Linked DNA regions of Homo sapiens: region 2 is linked to region 1. Evidence: fine-mapped expression QTL. Tissue or cell type: whole blood. Region 1 holds a variant in brackets; the other region holds the start of a gene. All regions are shown on one strand. Distances are between the middles of the regions.

What was found. PIP is the estimated chance that this variant, and not a neighbour inherited with it, causes the effect.
Region 2: SUCNR1 starts here. The variant in region 1 is fine-mapped to the expression of SUCNR1 in whole blood (TOPMed, PIP above 0.99).

The regions. Positions count from the first base shown.
Region 1 is chr3:151,940,822-151,948,934 of GRCh38, reverse strand. All of the region lies in intron 1 of LOC107986047 (a long non-coding RNA gene), which reads left to right. Among named protein-coding and RNA genes, the nearest start is that of AADACL2-AS1, 17 kb to the right of the region's middle. The variant G/A (reference allele first, on the strand shown) is at 4,650.
Region 2 is chr3:151,869,525-151,877,625 of GRCh38, reverse strand. SUCNR1 (succinate receptor 1) reads right to left here and starts at 3,983. Exons shown (of 3, transcript NM_033050.6): 1 at 3,920-3,983. The region is part of intron 1 of AADACL2-AS1 (AADACL2 antisense RNA 1); the gene reads left to right.

The DNA of each region.
Region 1 (8,113 bases):
TTGTGGCTAGGACAAACAAAATTAATTTATGTTTGTCCTTTGTGATAAAAAGTCAAAACGTTTTTTACTATTTAGAAGAAAGAAAAATTAGAACCCAAATATTACCAACTAAGCAATTATTCTGGAAATATAAAAAGAATTCACTATTGAAACATACATAGAAACTTCTGTTTCCAACTGTGTGGTGAGTTAGTTTCTCAGATAGACTCTTTCAATGATAACAACTCAAATGCCAGATAAATTAAAATTTAAAATCCTAAATGTGGAGTTGAACTTGCAGAAGTAAAAAATACCCAAGCGAAAATCCATTTGAAGGCTGAAACTTTGAAAGCTAATAAATGCAGGTGGCTTTTAAATAACAAAAAAATTGAACTTTCCTTTTTATGGCCTTCAGGGCATTGGAGACTGGAAACAAAGCTTCTATTTCAGCAAGCTGAGAAATCTGAAAGGAGATGTAACTAACAAACCCTTCTTCCCTCAGTTTCAAAATATATTGATTATCTTGAATCTAGGCACTGAAAGGGAAGAAAGACTTAAAAACGAGTCCCTAAACCCTCTTTTTGACCAAACTTTAGCAGCTCCTGTGAATCCTCTTTTGAACCAGGCCTCATCCTAGGACCCTGTCTTTGATTCTTGTTCTTTGAATCCAGTTTTAGCAAGAATTCTTCATTCCTTTTTTCCCTGTTCCATGAGTCCAGTTTTTAAATCCTGCCAAGTCAATTTAGAGAGAATCCTCCACTCTTCATACCTGGTCACCCTGACCTGTTATCAGTAAGAACCCTGTTAAGACTGTTTAGCCAGAATTCCCTACCTTTGATGTCTCCTCTTAGCAATTCTCCATTCATGACCCCCTCACTCTTCTCATAGGCTATAGACACCTTGTTGCTTTTGCTGTATTCAGAGTTGAACCCAATCTTGACCACCTATTACAATATTCAGGACATCGATTACAATAGCTCTGATAAAGTCTTCCTTATAGTTTTAACAAGTGTCAGAATAAGTTTTTCTTTAACACCCTACAGTATTATAACTACAAGTCTAATCTTATATCAATTTGAAGTTAGAATTCATATTACTTATGTGATATGAACAAATTCAAGTATTTAACTTTAAGTGATCTTAAATTGTTAATGCACTCAGATAACTTCCAGAAATGAAGAGAAATCCTCTCAGGAAGAATCTACCTTAATCCCAGTCGTGGAAAACCATGGAGATAGAAGCTACGGAAAACCTCAAAAACCATAGCTCTCAGGGAGGAGCACCTTTGATGCCATCGGGTGTAGCTGCATTTTCAAAAGGATGGGGCAAATGCCATTGCTTTTTATATCTTTCAGTCCTTGCTCCAGTAGAGCGAGAATGTGTGCTCCATCATAGAAATGCATTACAGAGTTTGACAAGAGTAATTTCATGAGACAGCCCACCAAAAAATGAAGCCACAGGAAGCCAAAGTACTGGGGAGACTGTGGAGAGAAAGGAGCTCAGAAAAGTGACCCAAGAAAGTCCTTTAGGAATGATAGGACTTTCATGTAACCTGCATATGCATAGATCTGACCCCAAACAGCACATCAAAGATCTATGAGCACTGAACTAACAGATAGTCTAGGTCCCAGACTGAACACTGTGGAGTGCATACCCAGGAGAGAGCAAACAGCACAACAAAGGTTTGGAACACTGAACTAACACTGGAACCACAGTCTATAGGGGGTGGGTTAGAACTTGTGGGAGGCTGAGGAGGGTGGATCACTTGAGGTCAGGACTTCAAGACTAGCCTCACAAACATGGTGAAACCCTGTCTCTGCTAAAAATACAAAATGAGCCTGGCACGGTGGTGTACACCTGTAATCCCAGCTACTTGGGAGGCTGAGGCAGGAGAATCACTTGAACCCAGGAGGCAGAGGTTGCAGTGAACCGAGATCATGCCACTGCACTCTAGCCTGGGCAACAAGAGTGAAACTCCATCTCAAAAAAAGAAACAAACAAACAAAAACTTGTGGCCCAAACCTACTGAAACAAAATATTAACAATCTGCGTAGAATTTAAACAAGACTCCAAAGAATCTTGAAGTAATTCACAAAATGTCAAAAATGACTCAGCATAGAAAGAAGCACAAACATTTCAATTCACATGAGAAAAGACAATCAACAGACAGCAAAGCTGAGATGACAATAGATGTTGGAATTAGCTGACAAAGACTTTAAAGTAGCTATTATACAAATGTTTCCAGAAGCAATTGTGAACACTCTTGCAACAAAGGTTAAACAAAAAGCTTTAGCAAAGAAATCAAAGATATAAAGAACCAAACTGAAATTTTAGGATGGGAAAATACAATAAACACCTTCTTCTATCCTCCAATAAAAATCTCACTGAGTTCAACAGCAGGATGGAGATAACGGAGCACAGAGTCAGTGAACTTGAAGACGGATCAGGAGAAAAAACTCATTTAACCGAAACAAGACAAAGAAAACAACTTACAAAAGAACAAAATCTCAAGGACCAACAGGATGATACCTGAAGATCTAACCATGCCACTGGAGTTTCAGAAAGATAGGGTAATGATGAAAAAAATAAAAAATAATGACAGAAATCTTCCAAACTTTATTTTTTAGAAAATGTATAAAAGAAGTGAAGCAAATCCCAAATAGGATAAACTCAAAGAAATCTATGCACAGACATATCATAATAAAACTGCTGAAAACCGAAGACGAAGAAAAAGTGCTTAAAGCAGCCAAAGAAAAGTGACACATTAACTATAGGGGAAGAATGATTTAGAAACTTCAATACTTCTCATCAGAAATCATGGCAGACAAGAAGAAATGCTGAAAGAAAAAACTGTCAATTCCTAATTAAGAAAATGTTTTATTATGTTTAATCCAGAATTTTATATCTAAATGAAATATCCTTCAGTAGTGAAATTCTCACTACTGAAGGATATTTCATTTAGATAGGATATTTCATTTAGATATAAAATTAAAAATGTCCTCAGATGAAAGAAAACTGAAAGAACTTGTATCTATCAGTCATGCTTTAAAAGAATTTCTAAAGGAAGGTTTTTAGATAGAAGGGAAATTGTTTCTGAAACAAAACACTTGAAACTCCAGGAATTAAGGGAGAAGAAAAGAAAGAGCAACATTTCAATGAAAAGTTGTCATAGTTCATTTGGGCTTCTCTAAAGAAATACGATAAACCAGGGTAGGTTATAAACAACAGAAATTTATCTCTCAGAGTTCTCAAGACTGGGAAGTCCAAGATCAAGGGGTAGCAGATTTAGTGTCTGCTAAGAGCTTGTTTCCTGGCTCATAGATGGCACCTTCTTAGTGTATCCTCACATGATGGAAGTGGCAAACAACCTCCCTTAAGCCTTTTTTTAAAATAAGAGTACACTAATCTCATTCATAAGGGCTCTACCTTTGTGATCTAATCAAATCCCAAAGATCCTACCTCTTAAAACCATCACCTTGGGGGTTAGGATTTTAACATGTGAACTTTGAGGGGAAACAAATATTCAGACCAAAGCAAATGTAATAAGTTAGTCTTCTTATCTTGAATTCTTTTACCCAAAAGAAGACTTAAAATAGGAAACAGAGTAATATAAAATAAGGGGAATAAGTACAAAACCAGAAAATAAAATGATAGTCCTAAATCTAAACCCATCAATAATTAATTTAAACATAAATGGTCTGGACACACCAATTAAAAGACAGAGATGGTTGGAGTGATTTTAAAAATTACTTATATGCTGCAAAGAGAGCCACTTAAAATATAGTTACACAGATAGGTTAAAAGTAAAATGATGAAAAATAATATACCACATATATTAGTCCTTTTCACACTGTTAATAAAGATGAGCCCAAGACTAGGCAATTTACAAAAGAAAGAGGTCTAATAGACTTACAGTCCCACATGGGTGGGGAGGCCTCACAATCATGGCAGAAGGCAAGGAGGAGCAAGTCACATCTTATGTGGATAGCAGCAGGCAAAGAGAGAGCTTGTTCGAAGAAACTTACCCTTATAAAACCATCAGATCTTGTGAGACTTATTCACCATCATTAGAACAGCACGGGAAAGACCTGCCCCATGATTCAATTACTTCCTACTGGGTCCCTCCTACAACATGTGGGAATTCAAGATGAGATTTGGGTGGGGACACAGCCAAACCATATCACTACACAAACACTAATCAAACAAAAACTGGAATGACTATGTTAATATCACAAAGCAGACTCAGAGCAAAGATTACCAGGAATAAAGATGGACATTACATAATAAAAAGGCTTAATTTACCAAGAAGACATAAGAATTATCAATTTATATGAGCTAAGCCACAGATCTTCAAAACACACAAAGCAAAAACCTACAGCATTGAAAGAAAAAATAGACATATCAGCAAATATAGTTGGACAGTCAACATTTCTTTCTTAGTAACAGAAAGGACTAGTTAACAGAGTTAGCAAGGATATAGAAGAACAAAACAATGCCATCAACCAACTTTATCTACTTGATTTTTATAGAATTCTATCCAAAGATAGCAAAATACACATTATTTTGAGGGACACATGGAATATTCATCAAGATAGATGATATTCTGGCTCATAGTCACACATTAACAAACATAATTGAAATCACACAAAGTATGTTCTCTGACCATAATG[G/A]AATTATACTAGAAATAAATAACAAAAGAAAAAAACAAAACCTTCAAATATTTGAAAATTAAAGCTCATGATTCAAAATAATATGAGTCAAAGAAAATGTTTCAAGAGAAATTAGAACACATTTTGAATGAAAATGCAACATAACAAATTAAGTCAAATTTAGTTAAAGCAATGCACAAAGGGAAGATGTGTAACAGTAAATACATACATTATAAAAGGAGGAAAGTCTCTGTAATCTCAATTTCCGGTATAAGAAACTATAAAAACAATAGTAAAATAAGAAGCAGAAGAAAATACAGTTATGTGTCACAACAGTATTTTGGTCAATGATGGACTGCATGTACGACAGTAGTCCCAAAAGATTATAATGGAGCAGGAAAATTCCTATCACCTAGTTGACATTGTAGGTCCCAGTGCATTGCATGAACTTTGCTATATCTGTGTATCTAAACATAGATACACAAGTGCCATTCTGTTGTGGTTGCCTGCAGTATTCAGTAGAGCAACATACTGTATAGGTTTGTAGCCTAGCAGCAATAGGCATACCATATAGCCTAGTGCTATATCAGATGTGCAGGAGGTCATACCATCTAGGTTTGTGTAAATACACTCTGATGTTTGTACAACAAAATTGCCTAACAATGCATTTCTCAGAGCATATCCCTGTCGTTAAGCAATGCATCTTGTAATACATATAAGAACAGAAATTGTTAAAATTGAAAACAGAAAACAATAAACAAATTTTTCTTTTTCTTTTCTTTTCTTTTTTTTTTTTTTTTTTTTTTGAGACGGAGTCTCTCTCTGTCCCCCAGGCTGGAGAGCAGTGGCCAGGCCTCAACTCACTGCAAGCTCCGCCTCCAGGGTTCACGCCATTCTCCTGCCTCAGCTTCCTGAGTAGCTGGGACTACAGGCGGCGCCACCACGCCTGGCTAATTTTTTGTATTTTTAGTAGAGACGGGGTTTCACCGTGTTAGCCAGGATGGTCTCGATCTCCTGACCTCGTGATCTGTCCACCTCCGCCTCCCAAAGTGCTGGGATTACAGGCGTGAGCCACCGCGCCTGGCCAATGAACAAATTTTTTAAATTGTGCTTTAAAAAAAAAAAAAGCAAGACCAATAAACTTAATAAATATCTACAATGATTAACAAAGAAAAAAATAGAGGATGTAAATTACCAATACTAGGAAAGAGAGAGAGGATTTCGTTACAAAATCCAAAGATATCAAAAGAATAATAACAGAGAATTTCAAGATAAATAGGCAACTCAACTAGTCCTCTGTCTATTAAAGAAGCTGATTTTATACTTAAAAGTTCCTAAAAAAGAAGTATCCAGAACAAAAAAGCAAGACAAAGACTAACATGTTTAACAATTCAAAAGAAACACAAAATTCTCAATACAGTGGTCTCCCCCTTATCCTCAGGGGATATGTTCCAAGATCCCTAGTGGACGACTGAAACTGAGGATGCTACTAAACCGTGTGTGTGTGTGTGTGTGTGTGTGTGTGTACACACTATGTTTCCCTCCCATAAATACATACCTATGATAAAGTTTAATTTACAAAGTAGGCAGGGTAATATATTCACAACAATAACTAATAATAAAATAGAATAATTAAATGTTATGCTGTAATACAAGTTAGGTGAATGTGGTCTCTTTCTCTCTCTCAAAATATCTCATTGTACTCTACTCACTTACATTCAAACTATGGAATATGAGAAGATGCCTAACTTCACTAGCAATAAAAAAGCAAGTTAGAACCACAAGAGTTACCATGTCTTACCCAATCTTTAGGTGAAAAACTAAATCTGACACTGTCATGTTGGCATATATGTGGAGCAACAGGAACTTATGAATATTGGTGGTATGATGTATAAATTGGCCCAAACATTTAAAAAATAGATCAACATTTCATAGGAAGTTTGAATATGCTCATAATATATGATCTAAGGATTTCACTCCTGGAATAAATGTATAAAAATTAATAACATATTACAGGAAATAACCAAAATGTCCGACAATGGTAGAATGGAAAATACATTGTAGACTGGTTTTAAGGTGGAACACTGTTCAGCAGGGAAACTGAATGAGAGACAGTTACATGTGAGCTTTGCCCAGTGAATCTACCCAAACCTCATATTGAATGAAATAAGTAAGACATAGACATTATAGTGTAGGAATTCATATTCATAAGGTTCAAAAATAGGAGAAATATATCCATAAGTGGTAAAATCATTTAAAGCCGAAAGAACGTGGGATGATTATTATAAAAGTCAAAATGACGAAAACCTCTGTTTGTAGGATGGGAAGGTGATATAATTGGGAAGATGTATAGAGGATTTGGAAAAAACTGGCCAGTCTCTATTTCTTAACCTCAGCAGTGGACACATAGGTGCATCATTTACTAAAATTATTTAAGTCAATATATGCATTTATATATTGTTTTGTATGAATGATATTTTCTAATAAATGGAAAATTGCAAAGTGAAATAAACCACTTTTTATGAAATACCGAAACTGAATTACTGTGCTTGTCCAAAAAGCTGCATCCTGATGTGGGATATTTGGTTATAATTTTTCTCATTCTAACACATTCCAGTTTTGAACTCTTGACTCTTTGAAATGCCAAATGTAATTATAATGCGGTATTTTGTTTAAGCATGTGCAATTAAAAGGGCACCATTGAATTGTGGTAGTGTGTAATGTTTCCCAGCTGCTAAAGGTAGAGGACATAATTTTATGATGTGTATTTGCTCCTACCAAAGACTCTCTATTTTATAGATTTATATGATATTAGAAAGCTCTCCTTCATTCCACTACTCTCTATCTGGGTTTATAGGTTAGAAGTGAATTATAGTTTGGTACAGGAGTCAAAAGCCTGCCTTGAGAGTGCTGGCCCTTCATTTCAGGAAAACTACTCAGGGATAAAATGGCCAGTTTTTGAAGCCAGAATTGTCAGGGCATTATTGCTTATTTTATGCAGTTTTAAATATGCCAAGGACATATTTGGAGCTATGCTGAGAAGAAAGGGATCCCTGTCCAGTTAATTAAAACATGACTTTTAGCAAGTTGCAAGTAGAGAAGGTTCATAGGAACAAATTATAAATCTGCTTATTTATCTTCTACCACATTGTCTTTTACAGAATACTCTTTAACCCACTGTATTTCACATCTCAGCAGTTTCTTCTTCCCCATGATTCCTAAGACTTTTTTCTATCTTTGAAAACTAGAATGTAGCTCTTAGTTTTCCTTCCTGGATAGTTAATTCATACAAGATTCTGTGTGGATTACAGAATCAGACCCAGTTTTTAGAAGACTTGCTTCCTTGCTATCATACATCTTGTGTTATATAGTTTTCCTTGCTAGGTCATGTCTACATATAAATAGGCACATTTATCTGGAGATTTAAATTAATTACTATTTTTCATAAAATGGTATAAAATGAACTTTGACACTGGCTAGGGCTA
Region 2 (8,101 bases), 71 kb after region 1:
CGAAAATCTAAGCAATATCCTCAAAGTCATCTAAAACTCAACACCAGTAATGAATAAACTACCAAGTCTGTTTACTGTAATGTCTGGGTATTTCTCAAATCTATCATTACTGCTCTATAGCTTTCATTATCATTCTCGTCCAGGCTACTCTTATCTCTATTTTGCTCTATGTCATATTCTGCTATTGTCTCCTCACATCCTCTCTGGCCCTCATCAGTTCATCTTTACCATTATAGCTAAACAGTCTTGAAAAACTACAACTCAAAATCAGATCATATAGCTTTCCTTGATCAAAACCCTTAATTAACTTTCCACTATCCAAGGAATATAGTCTAAAATCCTTAATGGGGACATCAAGGTCTGCATGATCTGGCCCCTGCACCCACTTCAATTTTGCTTGGCATTACTCTCCTCCTAATTCATCTTCCTTTCTTCCTGCTCTTTGAATGCACAGAGAGCCTTCTTAACATGCAGTCCCTCTATCTGAATCTCTTTTCACTGCTGTTTTTGTCCTGTGATTCCTGGCCCATCACATATTTGTCATATATCTATACTTCTCTCAGGCCTCTGTTCAAGTGTAGGTTTCCCAAGGTAGGCTGTCTGACCCTCAGTCTAAAGTAGGTCCTCCCATTTATGCTTTCATTGTATACTAAACTTCTTAGAATTTTGTATAACTTTGTCTTACTCATTTTTTATTGTCCACATCTGGCACAGTGACCAGCAGATAGTAGGTGATCTATAAATCTTTGTTGAGTGAAGAGATGAATATGAACACCTGACTATTTACAAAGCATTTTTATAAATATTTTCTCCAAGGCCAGATAAGCAGCAAGACCATCAGATTAAGCTCATTGCTTATTTCACTGTGAAAGTCAACACTATATATAATATAATATGATAAGTATTAAAAATTAGTAATTGTAGTAGTAGTAGCTGTAGTTTAGAAACACATTTGTATAAGGCAAAATTAAATATCTACCAGGATAAATTTTAAAACTGAAGCATTTAATTAAGAAATGACACCTGAAATTAATAAGCATAAGAAGTCTAGAAAGACGTGCATCAAAATGTTAATAGCTTTATCTCTAATGATGAGATTTCAGGTAGTTTTTATTATTTCCTTTCTCCTTTTATCTAAATTTCCTATCATTTTTTCTCTCAAAATTGGCATCTATTTGATAATATTAAAAACTTTAAATTTCTAGAAATATAGCAAAAATGTCAATAGGCTTTAACATATTAACAAACTTTATTTTTTTTAGCTCAATGGTCAGTTTTTACTATTATTATTTATTCTCAGTAGCTTTTAAGTCCACACTTTCTGGAAGCACTCTCTTCCTATCTTCTATGACACAACAATCTCCTTGTTTTCCTCCTTTCTCCATTTTCATGCTCTTTTGTGGCTTAATCCTTCTTTGCCCAAGTTTTAAATGTTGGACCTTCTCAGGCCTTATTTCTGAGCTCTTGTTATTTTGTGGGTACTCAAAAAGCTGGTGCACAAATTCAAATGAAAATTAAGGTATAGAAAGTTTCCTTGACACAAGAAATTTGTTTCACTTTTGCATTTCCTTTTTTTCTGGTCATAACGTTTATCTTTCTGCCTAGTCACCACTGGTAATGTTAATAGCTTATGTATTGTGCACAGCAGAAAGATTTGACTGCAATGGAAGGAAAATATAGCCACAAAGACTTGTGCAACTAGAGCCTGATTTCCTGCAACTATCACTCAGGCAGGTGACGGGTCACATGAAAGTCAAGGAGCATTCTGCTTTATAGTAGCCCAGAAGGTCGGGGATTGAAGGAGTAGTAGGGAAGGAGTAGAGCTGAAATAAGAGAAATGAATGACTAAATTATCATATTTGTCTTTCTTCTCATACAGTTGTTTCTTCATTTTTTTGAAACAACTTTTTAAAAATGTATGTGTAAAATTATTGTTAAGGTGTAACACTCATAAAATCAAATAGGCAAAAATAAGAAATAAAAATGGTCTGTAAACAGACCACTCCTAATATTTGGGTACCCTTTTACATTTTAATATTTACCTGAATTTTTATTCATAAAAATGAGATTTTTTTATGATGTTTTATAATTTTTTGATACATTTGTTTCATTTTTTCTAAGTTCATAATTCTAATAGATTATGATTTTATAAATATGAGCTGTGCAATATTTGCAGACCAATTTAACTTCACTAGGATACAAAATTTTGAAGATACTATATTTCAAATTGGATATGTTTATAGTTGGGTATGTTTTTAGTGTGGCATCGCAATTCTATAAACATATGAAGTAAGTTGCTCCTTTAAGCAAAACTCCCAATTAAAGAGAAAATTCCCTCATGAAAAATTCATATTCTCTCTTCTGCTATCTAGTGGCTATATTCTTAATTTTTAGGAAATGGAAATAGTGATAAATAAATTGTAACTGATTTGGATGAATTATTTTGAATAGGTATTTTTTAAGAGCAGAAATTAAAGTGAAATCTTTAGTTTCCAGTCCAAAAATATATCTAAAACTGTTAGAATTATTGAACTAGAAGCAATATCTAATTTACTCACATAAGCAGACCAATAATACTTAACTTGAAAATGTTTTTTACTTTAAATATATTCAGCCTTTTGAAAATCTGCATTTTTGAAATTTACTTTAAAATATATATGTGATAGTTTCTTAGCTTTTTAATTGTTTGTTTTTATAGTCATCACAATTAAACAAATAACATTTGTAAAATGTTTACTTTTAAGTGCTACCTTAAGGCAAATTTACATGGTAACATGAGAATTTTTTTTAACAAATTACTTTTTTGATTACTAAATAATTTGAGCAAAAATATATATTCACACTGAAAAGATATAATAATTTAACATTTGTAACTTTATTTTTATGTATTCCATACATTACACCAGAAATTAAGGTATTAAAAAGTAATAGTATGGCACAAATTGTGTATTAACTTCTTTAAGAATACCACACACATTTTGAAAAGTTATGGAAGGTAGAATAGAAATGGTTTCTGCAATTTTTCATTTTTCCTAAGTAAATTAATTATTGGGTAATATCATTTTTACACACATAAATGTTAAATTTAATTTTTAGGATGCCTGAAAATTCCCCCAAATACATTATTTTCTAAACATAAAAATATTATGCCCCAGCACAGTGGCTCATGCCTGGAATCCCAACACTTGGAGAGGCCGAGATGAGTGGATCACCTGAGGTCAGGAGTTTGAGACCAACCTGACCAACATGGTGAAACTCCATCTCTACTAAAAAATCCAAAAAAAATAGCCGGGCGTGGTGGTGGGCGCTTGTAATCCTAGCTACTCTGCAGGCTGAGGCAGGAGAATTGCTTGAACCCCAGAGGCGGAGGTTGCAGTGAGCCAACACATGCTGTAAATGTGTCACTCTGGCACTCAGACACTCTAGCCTGGGTGACAAGAGTGAAACTCTGTCTTAAAAAAAAAAAAAAAAAAAAAAAATATATATATATATATATATATGTATGTATATGTGTGTGTGTGTGTGTGTGTGTGTGTGTGTGTATGTATCAAATACATGATTGTTTCAAATCATTTAGGAACTTTAATTTTTCCCCATAAGTAGTTATATTTATTTAGGTAAATCCAATTACTATTTTGTTGAAATATAAGTTGTTGAGATGTTAGCAAATATAATAAATCCTTTTACATAAAATAAAATTAGTATTTGACAACTAAAAGAAGACAGTTAATTTGTTGAAAAATAAACGTAGAGATAAAAATGACTTTTTTTTTTCAATTATTTTGCTGTTTTACATCTATTTATAAAGAATTAATTTAAACACTTAATACTGAAAACCTTAATTGCTCACAGGTCACCTTTAGAAGGAAATCTGGCCTTACTTTATACACTGAGAGGCACAATTTGCCATGTAGCTTACCATTCTGTTGGAAGACTTGATCCCTTGACAGGAACTCTGCCAGCAGCTGGATATAGCTTCTGACCCAGTGTTGTGCCACTGGACATGGTTATTACAGTGTCCTATTTGCATATCCTATTTGCATATCCTGCAGCCAAGATTAATAATTCAAAAGCCCAGGAATAATTTATTCAGTCAAACCTCCCAGTCAGAGATGTTCATGCAGAGGAATTTTTGTGAGGCTTTTATTTTCACATTCACATTTATTTTATTTTCACATGCAGTTTTGCAATTGAATGACAAAAAACAAGTAACTCATTTCACAGGAAACACATTTACCAAATAGATTTTTAGAAAAACACTGTTGAACTTATTTTATCCACTACCAAAGCAACAGAGAAGCATTCCTTATTTTCATTTTATTTGCATATTTACACAATAAGAAGTGGTAAATACTGCTTATATTGGGAATACAGTTGCCTCTGCTTTTCTTCTTTTTTAAAATTAATTTTCTTAGTGAATTCTGTATTGAGAATATAATAACGAAACCTCTGTTTTCAATAACTTTGAGGGAACTATAAAACTGAAATTTTAAAGGGAAACCTGGATATATGCTATGTTGGTGTACTAGCAAAAAGATACTAGAGCTTCAAGTTATTTTCCATTTTATTTTCTGTGCTTAAAATCAAGAAACACATAAAAGATACATCAGATAGCTAGGGATTAGGGAGAGAGATGCTAAGTAAAATAACCTTAATAGATGGCAATTTATATATCCCAATCAATGCTCTGAAAAACATCTGGAAGTACATTACCACCATTTCAGACAGGAAGCACACCTGGCTTTTTCCAAGCATTATATTAGGTTTAGATTCAAGTAAACACTCAGTCTTCTTGATGTGAAGCATAGGGATTATACTAAGAAAGCCCATAATTGTGCAGGCAGCAGTAATTCAATTTAAATGCTATGTAAGTTGAATATTGAGTTAGCAATGACAGGCAGAAGCCCAAAAAGAAGCTCTGTTACAGGCATCCTCCTAACTAAGCATTTCTCCTCACCAATATCTGACAGCTTAAAAACTCAGGAACTCAAAATATATGTATGTATATATACACATACATATATACATACATATGTGTCTATATTACACACTTTATATACATGTGTAAAATATATTTATACATGTATGAATATTTATGTATACAAACATGTGCATTTACATGAAATAAAAATATCTATAATTTGTTGAGTTCTTGTGATGTGGCAGGCAGGTATTACACTAAGTACCTTTATGCATCAAATGCATATAGTAATCCTCTGAGGTTGTTATTATTTAAGATTTTTCTCATTTTGCAGATTAAAAAGCTAAGGTTCAGAGAGGTCAATTAACTTTCTCAAGATTGCAGAATCAATAACGGGAGGGACCAGAGCTTAAGCCTATGTACTTGGATTCTAAAAGCACCGACTCTGATTCTTGACTGCCTACAGAATTGAATGACAATACCCTTGTGCACAACAAAGTCTAAGAATTAATAACAGGTATTTTTCAGTAATGCAATTCTTTTCTACTTTTAGAAGGAAGAAAGGTTAAAACATTATTTTTGTCTATATTTTTAAAAGGGCAAAAAGCATTTGAATAACCAATGCCAGGCTTGTTAATTTTAGACATAAATTAACATGAACCCCTTCCAAGAAACAAAGACAAATGGATGTATTTCACAGGTTTCTGCCACCATTCTGATGGAAGAAAAGAGTAATTCCCCCTTTGTGGGGTGGTGGGAGTTCCCGAGAGCTTCCTCTTTCTTCGTCCCACTTCCTGACTACCATCTCACTCTGGCTGCTAAGACAAAAATTGGTCTATGCTTCTCCTTTTTCATAGAACACGTCATCTAGACTGTAGCCTGGTAGCCTTGTTTCCCTCCCAAGTCCTACTTCCTGTTTCCTCCGAATGCTCTCAGTTGAGATACTAGAGTGTTACTGGGAAAGACTTACTAAAAGGTCACGAGTATTTCTGCTACAAAGCTTTATGCAGGTCTGCAAAATGATAGCTGCACGGGAACAAGGCTGGATTCAGAATTATGACCCTGTGAGCAGGGTGGGTTTCATGGTATGCTACTGTGTAGTCTCACAGTGCTTCACACTCAAAAAAGATCACACAGTTGAGTTAATGCTCTACTGTCACATTCTTAATTAAAATGTTTCATAACTTCTTAACAAGGGACCCCATATATTTCTTTTGCACTGGGCTCTACTAAATATGTAGCCAGTTCTGCCTGTGAGAGTAGAAACCTCCTCAGAAACTATTTCTATTCAGTATAGCACATCAAATTTTGAGGGGGCAAAGTTTTTTTGTTTTGTCTTTTTTTTTTTTTTACATATAACATGTTGAGATGCACTGCTTGAGAATCAATGGAAGTTTGAAAGGCAGTGAAAGTTTGCAGTACTGGCCGGGCATGGTGACTCACACCTGTAATTTCAGTACTTTGGGAGACCAAGGCAGGCGGATCACTTGAGTCCAAGAATTGGAGACCAGCCTGGGCAAAGTGGCAAAACTCTGTCTCTACAAAAAATGCAAAAATTAGCTGGGGCATGGTGGTGCGTGCCTTTAGTTTCAGCTACTCGGGAGGCTTGAGGATGGCCTGAACCTGGGGAGGCCGAGGCTGCAGTGAGCCATGATTGTGCCACTGCCCTCCAACCTGGGAGACAGAGTGAGACCCTGTCTCAAAAAAAAAAAAAGTTAAGTACAACAATGAACACTTTTTAAAATATATATTTTTTAAAAGCTTGTAGTACTGTTTGCTAAGAGGTAGTATAACACAGTGTTTAAGAGCATAGGTCCTGGAGGCAAACTGCTTTGTTTCAAATATTGGCTTCACTACTCACTAGCTTTCAGTTTTTGTATTTGTAAAACAGGGATAATGAGAGTTACCAATCTTATGAATTGTTATGTATATAGCAGAAGTACATATGCTACATAGTATGAGGTACTAGTATATACGTACACTGTATAATATGAGGTACATATTAGTTGCTAAATAATTGTTGGCTATTACAGAAATTTATAATGAATGAGAGAAGACTTTCTCTAAAATAATAATGGTAATTCAGTGCCATTGATGTTAGAATACTTGCTGCCCAGAAATATCCATTTAAAAGGTCCTTATAAAAGCCAACATGATAAAAAGATTAGTGAGTTCTAATCCTGGCTTTGCCTTTTACTAGTTTGTGTGATCTTTGAAAAAAAATCACATAACCTGATTTCCTTGTTTGGAAAAGGGGAATAATAATTCCTACCCATCAAACTCATAATGTTCATAGTATCAAATTATATAATGTTTGAAAATGCAATGGGCTTGAAATTGAAGAGCAGTTCATGTAAACCAGGCAAACTAATCAGGAAATTCAAGAGGAAAAAGAAAATGGTGGGAAATATAATATAAATATTAATTAAATCCAATGCTAGTAATAACTTCTGCTGGGTCCGGTGGCTCACACCTATAATCCCAGCACTTTGGGAGGCCAAAGCAGGAGGGTCACTTGAGCTCAGGAATTCAAAACCAACCTGGGCAACATAGCAAGACCTCCTCTACTAAAAATCGAAAAAATTGGCTGGGAGTGGTGGAACACACCTGTAGTCCCAGCTACTCAGGTGGCTGAGGTGGGAGGATCACTTGAGCCCAGGATGTCAAGACTGTAATGAATTATGATGGCATCACTTTACTCCAGCCTGGGTGGCAGAGTGGGATCCTGTCTAAAAAAAATTAATAATAACTTCTACTAACATTTTTTCAGCATTCACTCTATAATAACACAGTGTATGCAGTGATTCTTTTAATATTCACAATAATTTAATGCAGTGGATATTATTAATATCACTCATTTTCAGTTGAAGAAATCAAGGCCTAATAAAGATTAAATAAATGATCCACAAATACACAGCTAATACATGATTTGGCTGTATAATTTGAAGCCTTATCTGTTTGACTCCTGAATCCAAACTCTTCTCCATTATTCTCCTGAGTCACTCATGGTAAAGATGAAAATATTAGATTGAAACATAAAATTATTGATATTGGAACATTTTTACCTTATATATGGCAATTTTATATAGTTTAGTAAAATAAATTTAAAACTAACACTAAATTTAATTATTAGTTATAAAACTTATTGATTATCAAATTTAATAATTTAAATCTTCCAAC